Homo sapiens: one gene and its partner. The protein of the gene in region 2 binds, or shares a complex with, the protein of the main gene of each other region. Each region holds a gene or a part of one and is shown on either strand. Other genes may lie near its edges.

The links.
Region 1: the proteins of PLCE1 (region 2) and HRAS are in contact, whole or in part, in a crystal structure (PDB 2C5L), measured with the Homo sapiens proteins. Residues at the interface, in NP_057425.3 of Homo sapiens: Phe2138, Pro2146, Glu2147, Gln2148, Pro2149, Arg2150, Thr2151, Val2152, Ile2153, Lys2154, Lys2171, Tyr2174, Ser2175; in NP_001123914.1 of Homo sapiens: Ile24, Gln25, His27, Val29, Glu31, Asp33, Ile36, Glu37, Asp38, Ser39, Tyr40, Arg41, Glu63, Tyr64.

Annotation. Positions count from the first base shown.
Region 1 is NC_000011.10:532,342-539,465, reverse strand, and holds the start of HRAS (GTPase HRas), read left to right. Parts: upstream 1-3,889; 5' UTR 3,890-4,050; intron 4,051-5,090; 5' UTR 5,091-5,143; coding exon 5,144-5,254; intron 5,255-5,521; coding exon 5,522-5,700; intron 5,701-5,853; coding exon 5,854-6,013; intron 6,014-6,107; coding exon of another isoform or gene 6,108-6,189; intron 6,190-6,710; coding exon 6,711-6,830; 3' UTR 6,831-6,835; exon of another isoform or gene 6,836-6,943; 3' UTR 6,944-7,124. UniProt on the Homo sapiens protein: Involved in the activation of Ras protein signal transduction. Ras proteins bind GDP/GTP and possess intrinsic GTPase activity.
Region 2 is NC_000010.11:94,024,900-94,032,134, forward strand, and holds part of PLCE1 (1-phosphatidylinositol 4,5-bisphosphate phosphodiesterase epsilon-1), read left to right. Parts: intron 1-5,783; 5' UTR 5,784-6,147; coding exon 6,148-7,235. UniProt on the Homo sapiens protein: The production of the second messenger molecules diacylglycerol (DAG) and inositol 1,4,5-trisphosphate (IP3) is mediated by activated phosphatidylinositol-specific phospholipase C enzymes.

The DNA of each region.
Region 1 (7,124 bases), on a different chromosome or scaffold from region 2:
TTGCAGTGAGACAAGATCGCGCCACTGTCCTCCAGCCTGGGCAACAGAGCAAGACTCTGTCTCAAAAAAAAAAAAAAAAAAGGCTGGGTGCGGTGGCTCACACCTGTAATCCCAGCACTTTGGGAGGCTGAGGCGGGCAGATCACAAGATCAGGAGATCAAGACCATCCTGGCTAACGAGGTGAAACCCCATCTCTACTAAAGATACAAAAAACATAGTTAGCCAGGCGTGGTGGCGGACGCCTGTAGTCCCAGCTACTTGGGAGGCTGAGGCTGGGGAATGGCATGAACCCAGGAGGTGGAGCTTGCAGTGAGCCAAGATGGCACCACTGCACTCCAGCCTGGGCGACAGAGAGAGACTCCATCTCAAAAAACAAACAAACAAACAAAGATGCAGACATCTGCCTCGGCCCCAGGCCCTGGAATCATGAGCTCCAGGCGTGGAGTGACAAGTGTGCTCGGAGCGTCCAGTGTCCTCCTCCCTGACCACCTTCATGTGTCTTCAGTCTGGACCTGGACTGATCCCCTGACTGCACTCCCCACCCAGCCTTCCCAGATTTATCTTCCTGATGAGACGAGTTCCCTTCGGAGCCCTGTGTGTCTTACTACGTGTTCGGTTGAGGGCCTGCCTCGCCCCAGAGCTGTGGGCTGCACGTGGCCTGCACGTGGCCTGCGTGCTCCTCTGCTGTCCACAGTCGCAGGAGGGGATGCTCAAATATTTGTCGAAGGAATCCGTGAACAGGCAGATGCACATGTAGCCACTTAGAACGTTCTGGCCATGGCTTTTATCTGTTGACCACGTGTGGACACTGAAGATGCATCCTCTCCATCCCGTCTAGAGCTGCCCCTGTGCCAGGCGAGTTGGCCGGCTGTTGACAGAGGTGGTGGGTGGGAGTGTTGGAGCGGGGCAGTGGCTCAGGCTCTGGGTGCCTCACTGGCCTGGTCTGGAAGGTGACCATGCACCAAGGATCAAAGAAGTGAAGCCCAAAGCAGAATCTCATGGAGTTTCCAGCCCAAATCTCCCCCACTGCCTGCCTTTCTCCAGCCAGTGCAAGGCCCCAGGCCTCACAGCAGGACCCCAACACTGCATCCCCCCAAAGACTCTGGCCACCTCCATCCCAGGCCTGCCAGCCTCGAGCCTCATGGAGGGCGTGAGCTGGCGGGGTCACGGGCAGCCCCTGGACACCTATGGGTGACACTAAGGGCTGAGTCAGCTACCCTTGTCTCCTCTGTGCCCAAGAGCCCCAAGCATCAGACTGGTCTGAGCCCCAAGGCCTGGGGGTGCAAGGGGTTGGAGGCTGTGGGATCCAAAGACCCCATTGAACTCCCACCTCAGACACTGCACCTAGTGTTCTCACCCAGGCCTGAACCCATCCACACACTTCACGGCCCTGCTCCCACCCTGTGTCCCCTCTGCAAGCCCCCATGCTCCCCAAATTGGTAACTGGGGGGCCTGTCTCCACACCCCTGCTAGTGCCATTCCCTGGTGGGTAGCCATCACCTCTGGGTCCCCTGCTGCCCTCGCCCCTTCACCATGGGGGCTCGGAAGGCAGAGCCCGCTCCCCTCCTGAGCCCCACCCTGGAACCCTGAGCACCCTGGGTCATTGCCTCTGAGTCTCCCTCAGGGGCAGGGCTTGGGGCCCCTCCTGTCTCCTGACAGGGAGCCCTTTCAGTGCAGGGCCAGGGGGTGGTGGAGGCAAGGGTCCTCAGGGGACCAGATCTGACATGCGGGGCCATCACTGGGTCCCCGATGGCTGTGCTGCTTCGTCCCCGCGCCCACGCCTCGGCGCAGGTTCCCTCCTGGCACCGGTCATAGGGCGAGGCTTGCGGCTCCCACCCCAAGGGTGCGCTCGGCTCTCACCTGAGGGCTCAGCCTAGGTGTCCGGCCCTGGCAGCTCGGCCCTGGGCGCCCTCCACCTCCAGGCGCTGTCTCCTACTCCAGGCTGTTCTTCCGGCCGCCGCGGGGTTGCGGCCTGGGCGCCATAGCAACGGGAGCCAGGCCTCATTTGAATACGCAAATATTTATAAGTCGCCGGGGGCTCGGGTTCCGTGCGGCTGAGCCACGCCCCTTAGCAACGGTCGCTAGGGCGGGGCCACGTGGACTGGCACGTGCGTGGGCGCCCCTGCTGCGGGCGATCCCAGGGGAAGGTGACGCGCCACCAACTCGAGTTGGGTGGGCGCAGGCGCGTCAGGTGCCAGCTTCCTGCGGCTCCGTGCCTGGGCCGTCGCGATGCACGTGTCGCGTTTCCTCGCGATCCTGGCGCTTCCCACGCGGGGCGGGTAAAGGCGGTCTCTGCTGGAGGCTCGCGCCCACCTTTCCCAGGTGGAAGGGTCGCCCCTGGGGCCGAGGCCTGCCGTCCTGACCTTCGGTTGGAAGTGAGGCCGACGGCAAAAGGAAGCACCGGGGGAAGCGCCCCCGAGGACCAGGAAACACACACCGGACGCCGGAGCGCACCCGAGTGCCCGGCCCGCGGGACACGCTGCCGCCCGCCGTCCAGTCGCCGCTTCTCACTCGCGTTCATGCGTGTCCGCCCCGAGCCGAGCTCTGACTGCGACCGCGCGGTGGACGGACGGCAGGCGGGACCCCCGGGACCGCACGTGGGTGGAGCCCCGGGTCAGCAGCGACCGGCGCAGGAGGGCGAGGCGGGCGCTGGACTGGGCAGAGGCAGGGTTTGCCTGACTGTAAAACGCCTTTTTTGTTTTGAGACGAAGTAGCGCTCTGTTGCCCAGTGCAGTGGCGCGATTTCGGCTCACCGCAACATCCGCCTCCCGGGTTCCAGCGATTCTCCTGCCTCAGCCTCCCGAGTAGCTGGGACTACAGGCGCGCGCCACTGCAGCCGACTAATTTTTTGTGTTTTTAGTAGAGACAGGGTTTCATCATGTTGGCCAGGCTGGTCTTGAACTCCTGACCTCAAGTAATCCACCCGCTTAGGCCTCCCGAAGTGCTGGGATTATAGGCGTGAGCCACCGCGCCCGGCCCTTTTTGTTTTTTAATGAGGATGTATTTCTGATTCCTTTGCAATTTTAAAAAATGTTAAAAACATGTCTTTTTGGGTTTGAAAGAGCTAGGATGTGCGTCTATGTGCTTGGGGTGAGCCCTGGGCACTTCGCTCCCCTGTGGCAACTTGTGGGTACGGTTTAACTGGACCACGCTGAGCTTCTGCAGCGTTGGAACCTCAAGTTTGGGGGGACTGGGCGGGCAGGGTCGCCTGCCACGCAGGCCCGAGAAAGAGGAGAGTGGTGGAGGGGGCGTTCTCACGCCTGGCCCCAGGGCACACGGCTGCGCCCGCCGCCCGGAACCCCACCGGGGCTGCAAGCGTCCTCGGGGTGGGTTGCGGTGGGAGTAGGGGAGCTGGGGTGCGTGGTGGTAGGTGGGGTGCGCGGCCGCTCCACCTGCGCGGAAGGGCAGCCGGGCAACCGGACCCCGCGGCCACCCGGGGGCCCCCAGCTCCGAGCATCCCGCCTTGGTCCCGGCGGATCCCAGCCTTTCCCCAGCCCGTAGCCCCGGGACCTCCGCGGTGGGCGGCGCCGCGCTGCCGGCGCAGGGAGGGCCTCTGGTGCACCGGCACCGCTGAGTCGGGTTCTCTCGCCGGCCTGTTCCCGGGAGAGCCCGGGGCCCTGCTCGGAGATGCCGCCCCGGGCCCCCAGACACCGGCTCCCTGGCCTTCCTCGAGCAACCCCGAGCTCGGCTCCGGTCTCCAGCCAAGCCCAACCCCGAGAGGCCGCGGCCCTACTGGCTCCGCCTCCCGCGTTGCTCCCGGAAGCCCCGCCCGACCGCGGCTCCTGACAGACGGGCCGCTCAGCCAACCGGGGTGGGGCGGGGCCCGATGGCGCGCAGCCAATGGTAGGCCGCGCCTGGCAGACGGACGGGCGCGGGGCGGGGCGTGCGCAGGCCCGCCCGAGTCTCCGCCGCCCGTGCCCTGCGCCCGCAACCCGAGCCGCACCCGCCGCGGACGGAGCCCATGCGCGGGGCGAACCGCGCGCCCCCGCCCCCGCCCCGCCCCGGCCTCGGCCCCGGCCCTGGCCCCGGGGGCAGTCGCGCCTGTGAACGGTGAGTGCGGGCAGGGATCGGCCGGGCCGCGCGCCCTCCTCGCCCCCAGGCGGCAGCAATACGCGCGGCGCGGGCCGGGGGCGCGGGGCCGGCGGGCGTAAGCGGCGGCGGCGGCGGCGGCGGCGGGTGGGTGGGGCCGGGCGGGGCCCGCGGGCACAGGTGAGCGGGCGTCGGGGGCTGCGGCGGGCGGGGGCCCCTTCCTCCCTGGGGCCTGCGGGAATCCGGGCCCCACCCGTGGCCTCGCGCTGGGCACGGTCCCCACGCCGGCGTACCCGGGAGCCTCGGGCCCGGCGCCCTCACACCCGGGGGCGTCTGGGAGGAGGCGGCCGCGGCCACGGCACGCCCGGGCACCCCCGATTCAGCATCACAGGTCGCGGACCAGGCCGGGGGCCTCAGCCCCAGTGCCTTTTCCCTCTCCGGGTCTCCCGCGCCGCTTCTCGGCCCCTTCCTGTCGCTCAGTCCCTGCTTCCCAGGAGCTCCTCTGTCTTCTCCAGCTTTCTGTGGCTGAAAGATGCCCCCGGTTCCCCGCCGGGGGTGCGGGGCGCTGCCCGGGTCTGCCCTCCCCTCGGCGGCGCCTAGTACGCAGTAGGCGCTCAGCAAATACTTGTCGGAGGCACCAGCGCCGCGGGGCCTGCAGGCTGGCACTAGCCTGCCCGGGCACGCCGTGGCGCGCTCCGCCGTGGCCAGACCTGTTCTGGAGGACGGTAACCTCAGCCCTCGGGCGCCTCCCTTTAGCCTTTCTGCCGACCCAGCAGCTTCTAATTTGGGTGCGTGGTTGAGAGCGCTCAGCTGTCAGCCCTGCCTTTGAGGGCTGGGTCCCTTTTCCCATCACTGGGTCATTAAGAGCAAGTGGGGGCGAGGCGACAGCCCTCCCGCACGCTGGGTTGCAGCTGCACAGGTAGGCACGCTGCAGTCCTTGCTGCCTGGCGTTGGGGCCCAGGGACCGCTGTGGGTTTGCCCTTCAGATGGCCCTGCCAGCAGCTGCCCTGTGGGGCCTGGGGCTGGGCCTGGGCCTGGCTGAGCAGGGCCCTCCTTGGCAGGTGGGGCAGGAGACCCTGTAGGAGGACCCCGGGCCGCAGGCCCCTGAGGAGCGATGACGGAATATAAGCTGGTGGTGGTGGGCGCCGGCGGTGTGGGCAAGAGTGCGCTGACCATCCAGCTGATCCAGAACCATTTTGTGGACGAATACGACCCCACTATAGAGGTGAGCCTGGCGCCGCCGTCCAGGTGCCAGCAGCTGCTGCGGGCGAGCCCAGGACACAGCCAGGATAGGGCTGGCTGCAGCCCCTGGTCCCCTGCATGGTGCTGTGGCCCTGTCTCCTGCTTCCTCTAGAGGAGGGGAGTCCCTCGTCTCAGCACCCCAGGAGAGGAGGGGGCATGAGGGGCATGAGAGGTACCAGGGAGAGGCTGGCTGTGTGAACTCCCCCCACGGAAGGTCCTGAGGGGGTCCCTGAGCCCTGTCCTCCTGCAGGATTCCTACCGGAAGCAGGTGGTCATTGATGGGGAGACGTGCCTGTTGGACATCCTGGATACCGCCGGCCAGGAGGAGTACAGCGCCATGCGGGACCAGTACATGCGCACCGGGGAGGGCTTCCTGTGTGTGTTTGCCATCAACAACACCAAGTCTTTTGAGGACATCCACCAGTACAGGTGAACCCCGTGAGGCTGGCCCGGGAGCCCACGCCGCACAGGTGGGGCCAGGCCGGCTGCGTCCAGGCAGGGGCCTCCTGTCCTCTCTGCGCATGTCCTGGATGCCGCTGCGCCTGCAGCCCCCGTAGCCAGCTCTCGCTTTCCACCTCTCAGGGAGCAGATCAAACGGGTGAAGGACTCGGATGACGTGCCCATGGTGCTGGTGGGGAACAAGTGTGACCTGGCTGCACGCACTGTGGAATCTCGGCAGGCTCAGGACCTCGCCCGAAGCTACGGCATCCCCTACATCGAGACCTCGGCCAAGACCCGGCAGGTGAGGCAGCTCTCCACCCCACAGCTAGCCAGGGACCCGCCCCGCCCCGCCCCAGCCAGGGAGCAGCACTCACTGACCCTCTCCCTTGACACAGGGCAGCCGCTCTGGCTCTAGCTCCAGCTCCGGGACCCTCTGGGACCCCCCGGGACCCATGTGACCCAGCGGCCCCTCGCGCTGTAAGTCTCCCGGGACGGCAGGGCAGTGAGGGAGGCGAGGGCCGGGGTCTGGGCTCACGCCCTGCAGTCCTGGGCCGACACAGCTCCGGGGAAGGCGGAGGTCCTTGGGGAGAGCTGCCCTGAGCCAGGCCGGAGCGGTGACCCTGGGGCCCGGCCCCTCTTGTCCCCAGAGTGTCCCACGGGCACCTGTTGGTTCTGAGTCTTAGTGGGGCTACTGGGGACACGGGCCGTAGCTGAGTCGAGAGCTGGGTGCAGGGTGGTCAAACCCTGGCCAGACCTGGAGTTCAGGAGGGCCCCGGGCCACCCTGACCTTTGAGGGGCTGCTGTAGCATGATGCGGGTGGCCCTGGGCACTTCGAGATGGCCAGAGTCCAGCTTCCCGTGTGTGTGGTGGGCCTGGGGAAGTGGCTGGTGGAGTCGGGAGCTTCGGGCCAGGCAAGGCTTGATCCCACAGCAGGGAGCCCCTCACCCAGGCAGGCGGCCACAGGCCGGTCCCTCCTGATCCCATCCCTCCTTTCCCAGGGAGTGGAGGATGCCTTCTACACGTTGGTGCGTGAGATCCGGCAGCACAAGCTGCGGAAGCTGAACCCTCCTGATGAGAGTGGCCCCGGCTGCATGAGCTGCAAGTGTGTGCTCTCCTGACGCAGGTGAGGGGGACTCCCAGGGCGGCCGCCACGCCCACCGGATGACCCCGGCTCCCCGCCCCTGCCGGTCTCCTGGCCTGCGGTCAGCAGCCTCCCTTGTGCCCCGCCCAGCACAAGCTCAGGACATGGAGGTGCCGGATGCAGGAAGGAGGTGCAGACGGAAGGAGGAGGAAGGAAGGACGGAAGCAAGGAAGGAAGGAAGGGCTGCTGGAGCCCAGTCACCCCGGGACCGTGGGCCGAGGTGACTGCAGACCCTCCCAGGGAGGCTGTGCACAGACTGTCTTGAACATCC
Region 2 (7,235 bases):
AAATAGGTATGATAATAATACTACCCCCACCTTTTTAGTTTTAGTTAGGAAAAGATTTAGATGTGAGTGACAGAAAACCCAAGACAATGGTGGCTTAAACAAGATAGAATTTTTTTTCCCTCCCCTAAGTCCCGGAAACAGGCAGTCAGGTTTCTATCTTGTTTTTTTTTTCCTATACATGACATTCATTCTCATGTTCACCTCACAATCTAAGATGGCTGCTCCAGCTCTGGCTATCATGCCTTTCTTCCAATCAGCAGCAGAAGAAAGAGGGGCAGGAAAAGGGCAGACTCTATTCCTTCAAGCTCTCTTTCCAGAAATTGCAAACCACTTTGCTTATATCTCTTTGGCTGTAACTTAGTCCCATGGCCACATCTAGCTGTAAGGGAGGCTAATAAAGGAATATCCATATGCTTAGGTCAAATTCAGAGGTTCTACTACTGAGGAAATGAGAACAGATTTTGGGGGGAAATTAGGAGTCTCTGCCACCCTACTGATAATGTTGTAAAGATTAAATGAGATAGTATGTATTCTGTGCTTAGAACATGCCTGATAGATAATACATGCTCAGTATTAGGTCATTGTTTTTATAATTACCCTTGGTATACAGTCATCCATTTTTACTCTGTCATTCTAAATTCTCTCTGTTTATTTGTTCAGCATATATTGAGCATCCCTGATGCTGAATAATGTGCCTCTGTTTAAATCTATCAGTAACTGAAAGAAGGCCATCATCCAAGATAGCCCACCCTTTGTTGAAAAGCTCTAAAAGTTAGGGAAATCTTTATCAGACGGATCCAAAGCTTACCTCTCTTATAATTCATGTCTTAGTCCTGATCCTCCCTTTTGAAAGAATATGAGATGAGCCCATTTCCTCATCTCAATTCTTCAAATAAATAAAGATGGCTATCAAGCCTCCCACATAGTTTTCTTGCTCTAACCATGCATTTCATTAATTCATTATTTATCTAGTACATGGACTGGCAGACTTTTCTGTAAAGAGCCAGATGGCAAATATTTTCGGCTTTGTAGACCATATGGTATTTGTTACCACTTTTCAGCTCTACTATTATAATGCAAAAGCAGCTACAGACATGACATAAATAAATAGATGTGGCTGTGTTCCAATAAAATTTCATTTACAAAAACAGATGGCTTACCAGATTTGGGACTCAGTATGTAGTTTTCCAGCCCTTGATTTAGCCCATGAAAACACCCATCAACAGGATTATTCCTGGCCCATAGTCCCCTCTCCTGAAGCTGAAAACTTACCCTGTCACTCCTGATTCTGCTTATACCTTTCATTTATTTTTCTTGTCTTAATGCTTTGGCTAGAATTTCCAGCAATTCTTGCATCTCCATAGATCGACTTCCTGGCCAGTCATTTCTTTAGTCATATTACCTATCCCCAAATATCTCAAGATTGGACATACTATCTTGACAGGTACCCTCTTGTTCTGCCATATTTTTAGCCCACACAACCTTTGACCTCTCCCAGGCTGGCACTTATCCAATCTCCCCCATAAACCTGTTCACACTAAGAAAAGAAGAATCCCTTTTTCCATCTTTTTCTTCTTCAAACCCACTAGACTATGTTCTTCATTCAGTGCTTTAGGTTATCTTTAGCCAACAGTTGAATGCCACTATAACTCTAAATCTAACCTAACCTAGCCAGCTTCCCTTAAAAACAACCTAGAGCTGACCAAGAGTGAGTAAATAGAAAGTTAACAGTTATTGATGGGTCAGCTGCTGCTGACATACAAAATGTATATATATATTTCATCTCAATATTATAGATGTGGAAAGTATATCTCAAAATTGATAATTTAATCAGCTCAGGATCATGCAGCTTAGATTTAAGGAGTTGATCCCAGATATAGAACTGAAATTAAAATTGGAGTGGACCTAGTGAAGGGTGTGTATCTGGTACAGTAAATTCAATGCCATTTCACTGATACAACAGAGCTGCCAGACCTTGGTTGTTCTTTCTTACCAAGATATTTCAAGGCATAGAATAATAAACATTTGCCTTGAATTTTTGGATTTCAAAGTATTTCCTTCACAACCTGATGGAGTAGGTGATTTTATTTCTATTTTACAGAAGAAGAAATCAAACCCCAAAGTGGTTAAAATTTTTACCTGAGATACCAGACCCCAATGTCTGACTGTTTTCTTTTTATGACTGCCCATATTTGCTCTTCCCTGAAAACTCCACCCCACCTGTTTATCTAACTACTTCCTACTTATCTTTTGAAACTCAACTGAGTTGTCTTCTTGTGAAGGAAACCCTCCCTGGAAATCACTCCCACCCCATCAGCACTGTCTGCTTTAGATGTTCTTCCTCTGTGTTAATGCAGATTATAGCTCTATTTACACTGTACTTTGGTGACTTATCAGATGGTAAGGAAATCCAGGACAAGATCCCTGCCTTATTTAATTGTGTACTCAACAAATATTTGCTGAATAAAGGAATGGTCTGAGATTGAACCAAGTCTAGTGCTCTATAAAGTCTGCTCCCTGTAATGTTGCTCATCCATGATTCATGATAGTAAGCTGGAGGCAAAGCAAAGACCATTGCTTCGATGTCTGTGTATATCCTCAGCCTTCCAGAGACAAAGCCACATATAAGATAAGCTTCTTGGCTGGGCTTGGTGGCTCATGCCTGTAATTCCAGCACTTCGGGAAGCCAAGGTGGGCGGATCACAAGGTCAGGAGATCGAGACCATCCTGGCTAACATGGTGAAACCCCGTCTCCACTAAAAATACAAAAAATTAACTGGGCGTGGTGGCACATGCCTGTAGTCCCAGCTACTCAGGAGGCTGAGGCAGGAGAATCGCTTGAATCCATGAAGTGGAGGTTGTAGTGAGCCAAGATCATGCCACTGCACTCCAGCCTGGCGACAGAGTGAGACTCCATCTCAAAATAAATAAATAAATAAATAAATAAATAAGATAAAAAATAAAAAATGAAAGGCTTCTCCTAGCAGCCATGGGTCTTCATAGCTAGAAGACATCAGAAACCCAAACCCATAGGGCTTCAGACTAGATGGAAGATAAAACAGCATAGTCTATGGCTAAGAGAAGAGATTCTGTAGTCAGTCTTCTTGGATTTGAATCCTGTCTCAATCATTTTCCAGTGGAGGGATCTTTGGCAATTCACTTAGCTTTTCTTTGCTTTGGTTTCTACTCTTTCAAATGTGGATAGCAGAAATTATTTGTATTAGTTATCTATCACTGTGTAGCATATTAGCCCAAAATGTAGTGGCTCAAAGCAATAAACATTTATCATCTCACAGTTTCTGTGGTCAGGAATTTGGGACGAGGCTTATCTGTCTGAGGGTCTGTCATGTGGTTGCAGTCAAGATATAGGTTGCAGATACAATCATCTAAAGCCTTGACTATAGCTGGAGGATCCGCTTCCAAGATGGCGCACTCACATGGGTGTTGTCAAGAGTCCTCCATACTTTCCACAGGGATCTCTTCTTACAATATGGCAGCAGATTACCCCCAGAGCATGCGAGAGAGGAGTAGCAAGGAGGAAGCTCCAATGACTTTCATGACTGATTCTCAGCAGTCATGTACTGTTCCTTCTACCACATTCCATACATTAGAGGGAAGCCACTAAGTATAACCCACATTCAAGGGGCGGGGAATTAGGCTCCACCTTGTGAAGAGAGGAGTATCAAAGAATTTGTGGACATATTTTAAAACCATCACACTATCTTGTAGTATTGAGTGAGAATTACACAAGATAATAATTGCAAAGTGGCCGGGCACAGTGGCTCACACCTGTAATTCCAGCAATTTGGGAGGCTAAGATGGGAGGATCGCTTGAGCCCAGAAATTCAAGACCAGACTGGGCAACATGGTGAATCCCTGTCTTTACAAAAAATACAAAAATTAGCCAAGCGCAGTGCTATAGTCTCAGCTACTTGGGAGGCTGAGGTGGGAGGATCACTTGAACCCAGGCTGGTTTTAAAATATGTCCACAAATTCTTTGATATTTCTCCTTTCAAAAGGTGGACCCTAATTCCCCTCCCCTTGAATGTGGGTTATACTTAGTAATTCCTTCTAACATATAGAATATGATAGAAGGAACAGTATGTGACTGCTGAATCCAGGAGGCAGAGGTTGCAGCAAGCAGTGATTGTGCCATTGCACTTCAGCCTGGTAACAGAATGGGACTCTGTCTCAAAATTATGATGATGATGATGATATTTATAATTATAATAACAACAATAATTACAAAGTCCTTAGAACAGGACCTAAGCATCACCAAAAATGTTTTCCCCTTCTCCTCCTTTGAATTGCTTACCTCATGGGTAAGAAAGGACATATTAGCTGTCAATCTGAAGGCTTTGGCCTGAAAAATCTCTTTAAAAAATAGAGCAGATATTTGAATTCAAGTTAGTGCCATATGCCACTAAAATTATCTATATAATCTTGACCTGAAAAGTTGTTCATGGTGTGCTTTGAATTTTTAAAAGCAGGTACAGAACAGAATGACCAACATTATCTGGTATTTGCATAGTTATACACATATATCTCTATGTATGTTGATGCATAGGGAGTGTTCTGGAAGGAGGTTTCTGAAAGTATTGATAATAGTTATTGCTGTGTGATAGGATTTGTTAGGATGTTGAGCTAGGACACTGCTGCTCTGTGTGGGCTGGTTTATTCCCTGCAAAGAATATGATTTCTAGGGTTTCCAGTGATTTTTCAGAGTAGTTGTAGAGACATGAATATACTGGGAGCCTCTCACCCTTGAGGCTGTGTTTGTGCTTGAGGGAACACATATAGAAGGGATTAAGGGGTAGTTGATGACTCTTTGGGAAAAGAGGGTACGGGAGAAGCAAGGGGAAGAAAGACATCTATTTGTCAAAGAGCAAAGGCAAGGCAAAGCTGGTGTTGGCAGCAGAGCGTGACTGCTGATTAGTTTTCTCGGGAGCAACTGCTTCTCCTGGAAGGGAATGATATGCTCATCATGGGCACCTTCTAGTCCTATAGTGCCTTGTATATCCTTTATAATTGTGTTTCCACATTGGATAGAAATTTTTTTGATTCCCTCTCTCTACTAACAGAGTTACAAGCAGTGCAGGCTTGTTAGTGATAAGTTATTTCAGCTTTATATGCCTGGAAAAGTTTTTACTTAATTTTTATTTGCAGAAGACATTTTTGCTGGGTATAGAATTTGAAGTTGACAGTAGTTTTTCTTTCAGTACTTTAAAGATTTGTCCACTCTCTTCTGGATTGCATTGTTTCTGATTAAAAGTCTGCTGTCATTCTTATCTTTGTGCCTCTTTGCTTAATGTGCCTTATTTCTCTAGCTTCCTTGGCCTCCCTGAAGTCTTAACTATTTCTCTTCTACTCAGGTAAATTGTTGGATTTTATCTGAGTTTCCCTTCCTTGCCTTGTTGCCTGGAAACTTTCTAAGCAGTAAGCTAGGGCATTTATAGGGCTCACTTCTTTTTTTTTTCTTCTTTCAGACATCAATGTCTGTGTTGCTCGTTGTTCAATATCTGAAAACCACTGGGTTTTTTTCTGATTTTCTTTTTAGTTATTTAAGGTGGATGAATAAATCTTGCCCTTGTTACTCCATTTTGGCTGGAAGCAGAAGTTCTGAAACATTAAATAAAAAAAAAATACTAAAAACATAAAAACCAACTTCTGATTGCAAAAAAAAACCTTTTTTCTCAAAATTGTCTGTATCTTAGGATTGTGAGATCATTTTTTTAAAAACTCACTGAGTGCCACAGTGTTTGACATTATCTCTTTTCTTACAGGAAACAGGAATCATTCAAACTGGATTTTAAAATCATTGCAAATCAGTGATGGATCAGAAGTTGCAGAGTGCAATCCCGAGTAAAAGTCTTCAAAAAATTTTGCTTCAGGTAACAGAGGAAGGAAAATTGATCTACCACCTTAAAACCCTGATCTAGAAAAAATATATATTCATGATAGGAAGTTATAACTAAGAAAATTTATTTGCCTCTTAATGCTCCTGAATGAAAGGAATTATCCCTTTGTTCTTTGGGAGGACTTGTGTATCTGAGATTGTTGTAATAATCAGTCATTTTATTAAAACCTTGACATGATCACCAGGGAGGAAAAATAGAGCAATAGTCAAAACCTGTGTGTTAGTCCAAGATGACTTCTGAAGAAATGACAGCTTCTGTTCTCATACCTGTGACTCAGAGAAAAGTGGTTTCTGCCCAGTCGGCTGCAGATGAAAGTAGTGAAAAGGTCTCAGACATCAATATTTCAAAAGCACATACTGTCAGACGAAGTGGGGAGACTTCTCATACCATCTCACAACTGAACAAACTTAAAGAAGAACCTTCTGGAAGCAACTTGCCAAAGATTCTCTCAATAGCGAGGGAGAAAATAGTGAGTGATGAGAACAGTAATGAAAAATGTTGGGAGAAAATCATGCCAGATTCTGCGAAAAACCTTAACATTAACTGCAACAACATATTGAGAAACCATCAGCATGGCCTTCCTCAGAGACAATTTTATGAAATGTACAACTCTGTTGCTGAGGAAGACTTGTGTTTAGAAACTGGAATTCCTTCTCCACTGGAAAGAAAGGTGTTCCCTGGAATTCAACTGGAACTAGACAGACCTTCCATGGGCATTAGTCCTTTAGGAAATCAGTCAGTGATCATAGAGACAGGCAGAGCACACCCTGACAGCAGAAGGGCAGTATTTCATTTTCATTATGAAGTTGACAGAAGAATGTCAGACACTTTCTGTACCCTATCAGAAAACTTAATTTTAGACGATTGTGGAAATTGTGTACCACTACCTGGGGGTGAGGAGAAGCAAAAGAAAAACTATGTGGCATATACCTGTAAACTGATGGAATTGGCCAAAAATTGTGATAATAAGAATGAGCAGCTGCAGTGTGATCATTGTGACACCTTGAATGATAAATACTTTTGCTTTGAAGGCTCTTGTGAGAAGGTTGACATGGTATATTCAGGTGATAGCTTTTGTAGGAAAGACTTTACTGACAGTCAAGCTGCCAAGACCTTTTTGAGCCATTTTGAGGACTTCCCTGATAATTGTGATGATGTAGAAGAAGACGCTTTTAAAAGCAAAAAGGAGCGATCCACTTTGTTAGTCAGGAGATTCTGTAAAAATGACAGAGAAGTTAAGAAATCTGTGTATACTGGAACAAGAGCAATTGTGAGAACTCTGCCTTCTGGCCACATTGGGCTGACTGCATGGAGTTA